Regions from separate parts of the Homo sapiens genome. Here region 2 is linked to region 1. The links come from fine-mapping of genetic effects on gene expression. Tissue or cell type: whole blood. Region 1 holds a variant in brackets; the other region holds the start of a gene. All regions are shown on one strand. Distances are from middle to middle.

Region 1 (2,754 bases):
AATTCTGCCAGGTGATTTTGGTAAAGTCCTTGCCCCTAGAAAATCAGAACTAAGCAGAAAAATGACCAGAGTGGGGACCAGTGACCCCATGATCCCAAAGCTAGTGGCAGATGGAGTTAGGGGGTCTAGCAGGGAGGGAGTGGTGGGAGAGGTGTCAAAGGAGGGGAGCGCTTGCACCTTGAGCTCTGGAAGGCTGAGAATCTGCTCGAAGGGCACTTGTGCCCGAAGTGACGACTCCACGCTCCGCTGCTCCTGGGGAAGCAGCTCACAAAACCGCCTGTGGGCTCTGGTAGAGAGAGGGGAACTGTCGGTGTTCTCAGCGATCGGTCTCCCTGTGTGTTCATTCCCACTCCTTGCCTGCTGCTCATTGTCAACCAGGTGAGGAGCTAAAACCACGTACACAGAACTTCCGAGTCATCAGGCAACGGTAAGCAAAAGGACATGTCACAAGGCAGTACAGCCTAGGAGTCTATTCTTGCAATGAGTATTTACTGAGCATTTACTATGTGCTTGGCACTGATTCTAGAGATCCCCAAGGGATGAAGAAGTTGGGAAAGGAGCCAGAAGTTGGCCCTAAAGAATTGGCCAGGCACGGTGGCTCACACCTGTAATCCCAGCACTTTGGGAGGCCAAGGCGGGCGGAGCTTTGGAGGTCAGGCGTCTGAGACCAGTCTGAGCAACATGGTGAACCCCTTCTCTACTAAAAATACAAAAATTAGCCGGGCATGGTGGCGGGTGCCTATAATCCCAGCTACTCAGGAGGCTGAGGCAGGAGAATCACTTGAACCCGGAGGCAGGAGAATCACTTGAACCCGGAGGCAGAGCCTGCAGTGAGCCAAGATCGTGCCCCAGCACTCCAGCCTGGGCGACAGAGCGAGACGCTGTCTCAAAAAAAAAAAAACGGAGAAAAGAGCAAAACCAAAAATCTCATTCTCACCTTCACTCCAGGGATCTCTTACCCTCAAAGCCTCCTTTTTAGCAACCACACTGAACTGTCCTCCTCGGCCTCCACCTCCTTCCCATGAGCTTATCTTTGCCACAGGAACCTGGCCTGCATAAATCCGGCAAAAGGGCTTCCAGCCCAAGTTCAAATCTACTTACTCAGAGTGTTGTCTTAAGCAGTTACCAAACCTTTCTGAACCTGTTTCATTGTCCAGTACCTCTCTCCTAAAGATTAAATTAGGTAACGCAGGCAACCATTTAGCACAGTCCCTGGCACATGGTGAGTGCTCAGAAAGCGATAACGGTTACTGTATTATTCAGGTAAAGTTGGGAGAAGGAGCCGGGCTCCCCAAGGCTTCTGTGGTTTAGCCACTGGGCAAGGTCGGCCCCTGCCGGACTGGGGCAGGAAGTTCGGCAGTGCTGAAGCTAGTGGAGCCCAGGGTCAAAGAGCGCCTAACTTTTCCTGGAGGCTGTAAGGTGGCTCCGCGGTGCCACGCTGGGGCCTCAGGCGAGGGCGGGGAGGGCGTGCCGGGAGGAGGGCGCAGCC[C/A]GGGCTAGGTCTCCCGGCCTCCAGCTCCCGCTCCTCTGCAGACCTCAGGCCAGCCCCCGCCCCTCCCTCGGGACAGCGCCCCCGAAGCTGTCTCTAGAGGATCCCGGGGTCGGAGGCAGGGTTCAAGGCAGCACTTACAGGAGGATCTCCTGCTTCGTCAGGAACGTCAAGTCCTGGAAGGCAAAGCCAGAGCGGGGATTAGCGGACCGCTGGGAGGCCGCGGCCGCCCCGCAGCCAGCTCCCGGACCCTGCTCCCGAGAAGAGGCCCGCACGCGAGCTCCCCAGGGCCAGGCGTCCCGCGCACCTGGTACTCGGCCAGCAGCTCCTTGGACAGGCGACTGCCCGAGCCCCCCATCGCCCCGCCGCGCGCACAGCTCCGCCAACTCGCCTCGAGACGCAGACAACTTTCTCACTTCCGCCCTTGGGCCGCGTCACTGCCCGGTCCCCGCGGCAACCGCTCCTGGGGCCACCACCCCCGGGCCCGCCCCCTCCTAAAAGCTGCCAGGCGTTCCCAGCCGGGTTTGGCAGGCGAGCTGCCGGCTCCAAGCGGTCCTAGGCGAGCTGGAGGCGGGGCCCGGGGAGGGGCCCGACGCTCCGGGGCGGAGCCCGGGACTCACGGCCCCGCCTCCGGGGTGGGAGGGGGGGGCGGGCCACGCCGCGCGCGTGCGTGCTGGCTGCGTATGCGTCACGGGCGTCATGACCTCGCTGTGGCCCCGGCAGCGGCTGCGGGGAAAGTCGCGAGGTGCATCCGCTTCGGCTGCAGTAGGTGGTGGCGGCGGCAGCCCTGGGTGGGGTCCCATAGGGGCATCTGAGAAGTCACTGGAGCTAGCGTTTCCGGGAAACCTGGAGACTCGCTGAGTGGCGGGGGTCGTCGGCTGCCCCTCTGCCCAGCAAGGGCTTTTCTAGATGTTATCATCAGGCAATCGCTGCACCTGTCGCAGCCCCCAAGCCACCTCTTCCAGAAGTAACCATAACCTTGCTTCCTTCTTAGGCTATTTACTGAGGACCCACTGGATGTCAAGCATTGTGCATAGTTTTCTTCGATTGTTGCAACATCCCTTGCGAGGTAGGTTCCCATTTTACAAAGATGGAAATACGTAAGTCCAAAGGGTGTTAGTGATTTTTCCGGGCGCCGGCATTTAGAAGGTAATCGGTCCAGTCCAAGGCACTTTTAAAGGCTCTCCACTGCTGTTCTCATCATTCCAGCTGACCTGCCGTCCTTTTGACTCCATCTCACCCCTAGACTGCTGACCCTTTGCTCTTGT
Region 2 (2,618 bases), 32 kb after region 1:
GTGTAAGAATGGGGAAGTTAGGGTACCCATTTATTTACTCCTTTTTTTTTGAGACAAGGTCACGCTCTGTCGCCAAGGCTGAAGTACAATGGCTTGATCTCACTTCACTGCAAACTCCACTCACGGGCTCAAGTAATTCTCCTGACTCAGCCTCCTGAGTAGCTGGGACTATAGGCACACACCACCATGCTCGGCTAACTTTTGTATATTTTGTTTTTGCCACGTAGCCCAGGCTGGTCTTGAACTCCTGATCCACCTGAATCAGTCTCCCAAAGTGCTAGGATTACAGGTGTAAGCCACCGCACCAGGCCTATTTAATCCTTTCTGTACACTAGACCCTGGTGATAGAAATGGCAGAAATACAGTCCCAGCACTCAAGAGGTAATAGGAACATGGACAAAAAGACATACCATACCAATTACAATACAGTGTGGGAAAGACAGTGGAGGGAAGCATGAGATGCCCTTCCTCTGTGTTGGTAATTGGGCCACAGTTGGGAAAGAGGTGAACAAATCTCTTCTGTGAATACCAACTCAGGGACATCCATGTTTCCACTGCAGAAGGACAAGCCAGCAGAAGGCTAGAAGCCATAAACCGAGTCCTGGCAGGATCAGTGCCACCCACTTTAACCCCAAAGCAGGGCTATTTTCTGCAACCGGAAAGAGTGGCATCTGACTCATGGACTGAATGCACCTTGCCCTCCATGGTAAACTCTGAACACAGAGCAGCCAAGGTTCCCCTCTGCCCTGCGTCTGCACCCATGCTGCAGCGTTCCAGAGCACTCCTCAACATCAATCAGTTCAGGTAAAAGCAGGAGGGAAGCACTCTACCTCTCCTGGATAACCTCCCCAGGTTTCCAAAGGGCATTAAATCTTTGCTAAATGAATGACTGCCACCAAGTTCCACTTTGAAAAGCCCTGCCCAGGAACCCCATTTGTATAAGGCAAAATACAAAGACACCAAGAATTCCTCAATACCCTAAGATTAATTGGGGATCGGTAAAGACTAGAAGATGAAGAGGCGCCAAGGCCAGCCATGTACTCATTTCTGCTCATCAAGCCTTAGCCTGGGTTTATCGCTAGGTGATGGGTCTGAACCCTAGGTGCGGCCCGGGGCTGGAGGCCATCCAGGAGACAATGAGCCCCTTTCCCAGAGAAGCCGAGTGCCCAAGGCACTGGGCTGTCGCCGTCAGAAGACTGCCGAGCGGAAGCCCTGCCCACCGAGGTGGCGGAGACAGGCAGGCCTGGGCAGCCGCTGGGGCGGAGGGACGGCTCTTGGAAACGGAATCCGTACTTTAATTAAAGTTTATGCAGTTTTCCAGGAGCGTCCTGTACCTCATTTCGGCCCTCACGTTTCAGGGAAGCCCTCTCCACAGTTACAGGCAGAAAGGGTGGGCCACTGAGCAGCGTGAGCCCAGATCTTACCCCCACCAAGTGAAGCGGGAAATAACTTGCTACTACCCAGCCTCCGGCCCGCCCCTTCCACTTCCGGTCTTACCCGGCTACTTCCGCTGCTGTTTCGTAGCCGACTGCTGAAGGCTGGTTTGCGTCGACATGGCGGTTACCCTGAGTCTCTTGCTGGGCGGGCGCGTTTGCGCCGCCGTCACTCGCTGTGGGTTCGCGACCCGGGGGGTGGCGGGCCCAGGCCCTATTGGCCGGGAGCCGGACCCCGATTCCGACTGGGAGCCGGAGGAACGGGAGCTGCAGGAGGTGGAGAGGTACCGGCTTCTCCCCGGGCCCTCAGCTTGAAGCAGGGCCTCGTGCCCCGGCGCTCCAGGCCGCGCCCCCTTGGCGCCGGGTGTCCTGCCGCTGCTTGCGCAGCGGCCCTTGTTTCTTCTTACCCGTTGTTAGGGGCGCAGCGTCAGGTGTTCAGCTCCCCTGGGACCACTGGTCCCTTCATTAGTGACGTATTTCATCATCAGTTTAGAGAGTTCGGCATGCTTACAGGCAGTTATTGTTCTAGGTGTTAGCTTTCTGGGTGTACGGAGCAGCTCTAAGCCGGCAACATGGCCCGGTTGCCCTTGCGATCAAAGAGAAGAGGGCTGGGCGCTCCATGATTTAGCCTGAGGCTCTTCAAACATCCATTCTGCTTCCACGCATGGCTTCTGCCATTGGTTCTCTTCCCCCAGCACCCTGAAACGACAGAAACAAGCAATCCGATTCCAGAAAATTCGGAGGCAAATGGAGGCGCCTGGTGCCCCGCCCAGGACCCTGACGTGGGAAGCCATGGAGCAGATACGGTGAGACTCAGGATACCTTGTTTGTATCCGCTGTGATGAGAAGTGAAGGATGCTGGAGCCCAGAAACGGGTTTGGCTTTTTTGATACTGCTTTTATATTTTCGTTTACTTTTTGTCGTTGAAATTTATTATCAGAAAAGTAGAGTAATATAACGAACTTCCCTAACCCTGTCATTATCTAGATTTAATAGTGTTTTGTTTTGTTTTTTAAAGAGACGGGGTTTCGCTATCGCCTCGAACTCCAGACCTCAAGTGATTCTCCCGCCTCGGCCTCTCAGAGTGCTGGGATTACAGGCATGAGCCACTGCGCCCCGCCTGGTTTTAATAGTTTTTAACGTTATGACGTGGTTGGTTCATTTTTACTGAAATTTTTAAATAGT

What was found. PIP is the estimated chance that this variant, and not a neighbour inherited with it, causes the effect.
Region 2: NGRN starts here. The variant in region 1 is fine-mapped to the expression of NGRN in whole blood (INTERVAL, PIP 0.97).

The regions. Positions count from the first base shown.
Region 1 is chr15:90,232,042-90,234,795 of GRCh38, forward strand. CIB1 (calcium and integrin binding 1) reads right to left here and starts at 1,900. Exons shown (of 7, transcript NM_006384.4): 1 at 1,794-1,900; 2 at 1,628-1,662; 3 at 178-286. The coding sequence starts at 1,844. GDPGP1 (GDP-D-glucose phosphorylase 1) reads left to right here and starts at 2,168. Exons shown (of 4, transcript NM_001013657.3): 1 at 2,168-2,251; 2 at 2,481-2,555. RefSeq lists silencers at 1,393-1,842, 1,863-2,302. The variant C/A (reference allele first, on the strand shown) is at 1,490.
Region 2 is chr15:90,264,160-90,266,777 of GRCh38, forward strand. It overlaps NGRN (neugrin, neurite outgrowth associated), which reads left to right and starts at 1,513. Exons shown (of 3, transcript NM_001033088.3): 1 at 1,513-1,717; 2 at 2,129-2,239. The coding sequence starts at 1,554. It overlaps TTLL13 (tubulin tyrosine ligase like 13), which reads left to right. Exons shown (of 15, transcript NM_001396017.1): 15 at 561-1,318. The coding sequence ends at 808. It also overlaps a transcript of CIB1 not described here. RefSeq lists enhancers at 525-1,496, 984-1,113, 1,474-1,703, 1,497-2,467.